2 separate regions of the Homo sapiens genome follow, and region 2 is linked to region 1. A link means that fine-mapping ties the variant in region 1 to the expression of a gene that starts in the linked region. Tissue or cell type: monocytes. Region 1 holds a variant in brackets; the other region holds the start of a gene. All regions are shown on one strand. Distances are between the middles of the regions.

Region 1 (2,755 bases):
CCAGGGGTGATGAGGGATGGCGAACCCCTGAGCTCAGGCAATGGGCACAGAGGAAGAGAATGGTTTTAAGAGACAATAAGAAGGTAGAATTTTCTTGATTGTTCGGATGTGGTGGGGAGGGAGATAATGGAGTCCCAGATGACCGCCAAACCTCTGACTTGGTGTTAACAGAATGGTGGTGCCCTTGTCTAAAGGAGAGAGCACTTGAGAAGGAGCAGGTTTGAGGAAGATGAGCTCCATTTGTTTGTTTGTTTTGGACAGTTGGCAGAGCTAGCTGAGATTTTATTTTGAAAAAAAAAAAAAAAAAAGCAACAATTGAATTGTTTTGTAGCTGGAAGCATGGCCAATGGGGGTGCCCCAGGCAGTAAACTCCCCCAGCAGGTGGGCTGAGGGCTAGGGCTGAGCCTCAGGTGAGTCTCCTGTTCCTGTGCTCCACTGCACAGCGGCTTCCTCCACGGGCCCTGGGGCAGCCGCAGGAGGGGCAGGCTGGTAGGGGCTGCCATGGCCATTCACTTGGGCAGGACATCAGAGGACTTGGACACTAGCTTGCCATCTCGCGTTTCCACCTTCTTCACAACCATGGACCTGGAGAAGCTGGCGCGGCTGAAGGAGCTGGAGCCTCCACCAGTGCCAAAGCTGGAGCCCAGGCTGTAGCTAAGGCCTGTTGTAGAGGGCTTGTGAGGTGCCCGTGGGTCGAGCTCAGCCCACCTGAGTAGCCACTGGTGGTCTTCAGATGGACACTCATGTTCTGTATCCCAGACCCCAGCTAGCTCTCCTCGCCCTCCAGCAGCTTCCTGTAGGTGGCGATCTTGATGTCCAGGGCCAGCTTGACGTTCATCAGCTCCTGGTGCTCCATGGCACAGCTGCTGCACCATGTCTTGCTCGGCCCGCTGCAGGGCGGCCTCCAGCTCGACAGCTTCGTGTTGGCATCCTTAACAGCCAGCTCCCCATACTGCTCAGCATCTGCGATGGCAGCCTCCAGGGAAACCCTCTGGCCTTTGAGGCCCTCAGTCTGAGCCTGGAGCCGGCTGATGTTCCTATTAATCTCAGAGATCTCCATCTTTGCATAACGCAGGTCATTCCTATGCTTCCCAGGCAGTGTCTGCAGCTCCTCATACTTGATCTGATGCATGCCCTCAGCCTCAGCCCAGCTGCCATTGGCGATCTCCTTGTACTGCGCCTTGACCTCAGGGATGATGCTGTCCATGTCCAGGGAGCGGCTGCTGTCCATGGACAGCACCACAGATGTGTCCGAGATCTGGGACTGCAGCTCCCAGATTTCCTCTTCATATAGCTGCCTGAGGAAGTTGATCTCGTCAGTCAGCCCTTCCAGAAGAGACTCCAGCTCTACCTTGTTCATGTTAGCTTCAGCCACGTTACCTTCTTGATGAGGACAAATTCATTCTCCATCTCTGTACGCTTATTGATCTCATCCTCATACTTGTTCTTGGAGTCCTCCACCAGCCTCTGCATGTTGCCAAGCTTCAGCTTCTCCTGGCCCAGAGTGTCCAGCTACCGCCGAAGTTTGTTGATGTGGCTCTCGAATATGCTGTCCATGT[C/T]GCTCTGAGCTGTCTTCTGCTGCTGCAGGAGGCTCCACTTGGTCTCCAGCATCTTGTTCTGCTGCTCCAGGGACCGCACCTTCTCGATGAAGGAGGCAAACTTGTTGTAGAGGGTCTTGATCTGCTCCTTCTCCTGGGCGCACACAGCCTGGATGTTGGGGTTCACCTCCAGCTTAAGGGGGCTCAGCAGGTTCTGGCTGACCATGATGGCTGTGATGCCCCCCATACCACTGGCCCCACCATAGCCTCCACCCAGAGCCATGCGGGTGCCCAGGCCACCCCGGAAGCTGCTGCTGCCGCCCACTTGAGAGAAGCTCCAGGAGCTGATATGGGCACCAGGCCCGCTTGTGTAGGAGCGGCTGCTTAAGGCCTAGGGGCCAGAGGTGGACACCCTGTAGGACTTCTGGGTCACCCTGATGGACATGGTGGAGGCAGTAGTGGAGGGGTGGGTGGGCTGAACCAGGCAGAGATTCGAGAAAGCAGAGAAGCTTCTTCTAGGTCATGAGCTTCGTTTTGAACATGTTCAATCAGAGGGATCTAGGGAAGATCAAGGTGGGATCTAGGGAAGATCAAGGTGGTATCTAGTAGGCAACTGGATACATGGGATTGAACCAAGGGGATGAATCCAGGCTGGAGATTGACATTATGGAATCAAGGGAATGAGTGAACCATCCAGAGAGAGGGTATAGAAAGAGGACTCCTAGAAGATGGTGGAGAAGGCATTTCCTGAGAGGTAGGAGGAAAACCAGGAGTTTGCCACGATGACAACCAAGGGTAAGGAGAGTTTCCACCAGGGAGAAGTAGTCCACATGTCAGAGGCTGCTGGGGGCGGGGGGGGAGTCAAGAAAGGTGGGCACTGAATGGTGTCCCATGAGTGCAGAGTGGCACCTGCTTATGTGTAGTTCAGGGGCACGCATGGCCGGCCACTACCAGGCTTTCTTCAGCCTCCTCAAAGGCCCACACCAGTGTGACTGGGCTGGCTGGACTGCCTCTTCGCACCCCTGAGGCCTGGTTCATGGCCTCTCAGCCTGTGGAGAGGAGACAGGGAGAGGAAGAGGGAGCTTTAGCCTCAGTCCAGGGACGGTGTCTGAGGCCTTTCTGAGAAGTTTGTGGGGACCTCAGCTGCAGAATAGAGGGCAGCCTGCAGCCAGAGTAGAGCCAACCAAGTTCCTCCTGACACCAAAAACACTGACATT
Region 2 (2,614 bases), 170 kb before region 1:
ACAGAACTCCGTCTTGAAAAAAAAAATCTGTAATATTTACTGAGTGATTTCCATGTTCCAGGCAGTATTCTCATTGTTTTACCTGTACTTGCATTTACCTTATGTAATTGTCTCAAAAACCATGACGCCAGGCACTTAGAGATTAACTTGCTCAAGGTCAAAAGTAAATGATCGTCAGGATTGAAATCCGAGCATTTTTTTCTAGAGCCCATGCTAGTGACCACTATACCTGTGTTGCCTTTCTGGCCTCTGATCTCCAGTTTCCAACAAAGACACATCTGCCTAGCTTCTATGGGAAAGGAAATCGGAGGGTCCTAGGACAAGGACCAATAGGTAAGTTTCCCTTCGCCTCCTCCCTATCCTCTTACAGGAAAACAGGTTTAGGGGTGGATCTGAGAGTTTTCACAGAGTGAAGAGGAAGAGGAGCTCCCAAATGGCAGGCGCCTCTGGAGGCTTCCAGAGAAAAAAGGAGAGAGCGTGGGAAAAGGGCAGGCTGGGAGGTGGGAGCGGCGAGGAACGGGGAGCTGACCACAAGCCCAGGATTCCAGACCAGGCTTATGTCTCTTAGACTCAGCGTAACCTTGGATAAGTCCTTGCTTCTTTCTGAGACTCAGTTTCCCCGTCTGTAAAATAAGGGTAAATATAAAACCGGCTCATCCGCCCCTGCCAAAAGAGAGGACAGGGAGAAGGCCCTGTCTGGGGTCTAGGCTGACACGCTGCAGCTAGGATTAGGTGAGCTTCCGAGCTCAGTCGTGAGACCCCATCCTCATGGCAAGGCCGCGCTAAGATCTCTGGACCTCTGCTTGCTGGGTGGGTGGTTGGGGGCAGAGCATGGGCCAAATGCCCGGCTCTGCAGGCTGCGCCCACTCTTCTCGCACCTCCTCAGCCCTCCCTAAAGGAGTCTCAATCCCGGGGGAGTGGCAGTTGCGGGCGACCAAGCAGTCACCGGCTGCGCTGCGGCGACCTCCCGGGAAGCTGCGGCCGGCGGGGTCCGAAGAGCATCACGTCATCCTTTCCCCCAGGAGCCCGCCCCCTCCCAGACGGCGCCTGCGCAGGCGCGGTAGGAGGAGGGTCACGGTGGGGGCTGTCCACGCGCTCTCCGCCCTTCTCCAGGCTCGCTCGGGCCGCGGCGCTCTCGGCTAGCTGCAGCGGCGGCGGCGCGGAGGGGAAGGCATCCAGGATGCGGTGCGGGGCGGCCCGGTGCCCCCCCGCCCCGTCACGGCAGCCGCGGCGGCCGAGGGGACCGGGCCAGGGCCGGGGGCGGCGGCCCGAGCCGCGGTAGCGGCGGCGGCGGGAGGGGCGGCCTGAGGGCGGACGGGCGGGCGCCCGGGTTGCGGGGGCTCGGTGCCGCTCCGCACTGCCCGGCCGGTCTCGGCCCCGGCGCCATGAGTGGCGGCGGCGGCGGAGGGGGCTCGGCGCCCAGTCGCTTCGCCGACTACTTTGTCATCTGCGGACTGGACACGGAGACCGGGCTGGAGCCGGACGAGCTGTCGGGTGAGTGCGCGCCGAGCCCGGGGCGCTTTCCCGCGCCCGCTGTCGTCGGGGACCCCAGAAGAAACCTTCCTTCAGCCCCGCTTTGTCCCGGGAGCCGGGCGAGTGTCGGCCGGGAGGACCAGGGCGGGCGCGGGCGAAGGGGGCTTTGGACTGGAGGGGGGAAACGGATGAGGGGCTCTGAGCCATGAGGGGTCCAAACCTACGGCCCGCTGCGCAGTGGCCACGTCTTCGGCGACCAGAAAGAGGGAGGGTTGTGTGTTCTCAGTTTGGTGTAGGTTGAGTGACTTCGTTTAAAATAAAGGAAAGCTTGTCCTCTGGCACCCATTAGGGAGGGAAGGCGTCCCACGTCCTAGTGAAAGTAAGTTCCACCCAGACTTAAAAAAAAGGAAAACAAAAACTTGGTGAGTTTATCTGGCCACTTCCCAAGAAGCTTGTGATACTAGTTCCTCAAAACCGTTATACCCCAGCCCTGGGCTGGGCCCCCTGAGTCAGATTGCAGCTCTGCGCGTCTGGATGGGATATGAAGTAATAAAGTGAACTTGGGCGGCACCAAGAAGAGTAGGAACTCCCTTAGCCTTGGAAAGGGCTTGTATCCCGGGGCCATGCCTTTTTTGAAAAGTAATTTATGTCCTTTATGAGGACAGAGGCGTTTGTGAATAAAAGGGTAGCAGCATTGTAGTTGGAGAGGCTTGGTGTGTTCTGATGCGTTTCAAGTCATATTTGAAAGGGAAAGTGATGAGGGGAGTCAAAGATGGGGCCCTGACCAGATTTGGCACTCACTGCAGAAGGCCGTGAAAATTATACAGTCCCCGTGAATTTTCCACTGCACTGTCATTGGAGTCTTTGAATTGTAACAGTTTTGAAAATAAGTTTTTGTCTGGAGTTTCCAGTTAGTGGGTTTCAAGTGGGTGGAGGTTTGTCGGGTTGTACTTTAAGGTTGTGTCATCCTGATGAGGGGGACTCCTTTTCACTTTTCTGTCACTGTAAAGTTTCTCTTTCGAAAGTGATTATCCTGTTGACTAATCTTACTCGGCTTCAACGATGACAAGACAGTTTTGTTTTTGGGCACCAGAAAAAGTCCAGTGTTTCTTTTTTTTTTTTTTTTTTTTTTTGAGACGGA

The links. PIP is the estimated chance that this variant, and not a neighbour inherited with it, causes the effect.
Region 2: DENND5A starts here. The variant in region 1 is fine-mapped to the expression of DENND5A in monocytes (TOPMed, PIP above 0.99).

What each region holds. Positions count from the first base shown.
Region 1 is chr11:9,093,700-9,096,454 of GRCh38, reverse strand. It overlaps the pseudogene KRT8P41. Among named protein-coding and RNA genes, the nearest start is that of SCUBE2, 3.5 kb to the right of the region's middle. RefSeq lists enhancers at 140-639, 640-1,141 and a silencer at 843-1,048. The variant C/T (reference allele first, on the strand shown) is at 1,560.
Region 2 is chr11:9,263,841-9,266,454 of GRCh38, reverse strand. DENND5A (DENN domain containing 5A) reads left to right here and starts at 1,105. Exons shown (of 23, transcript NM_015213.4): 1 at 1,105-1,494. The coding sequence starts at 1,386. RefSeq lists enhancers at 804-873, 1,954-2,073, 2,234-2,573 and silencers at 1,154-1,253, 1,304-1,663.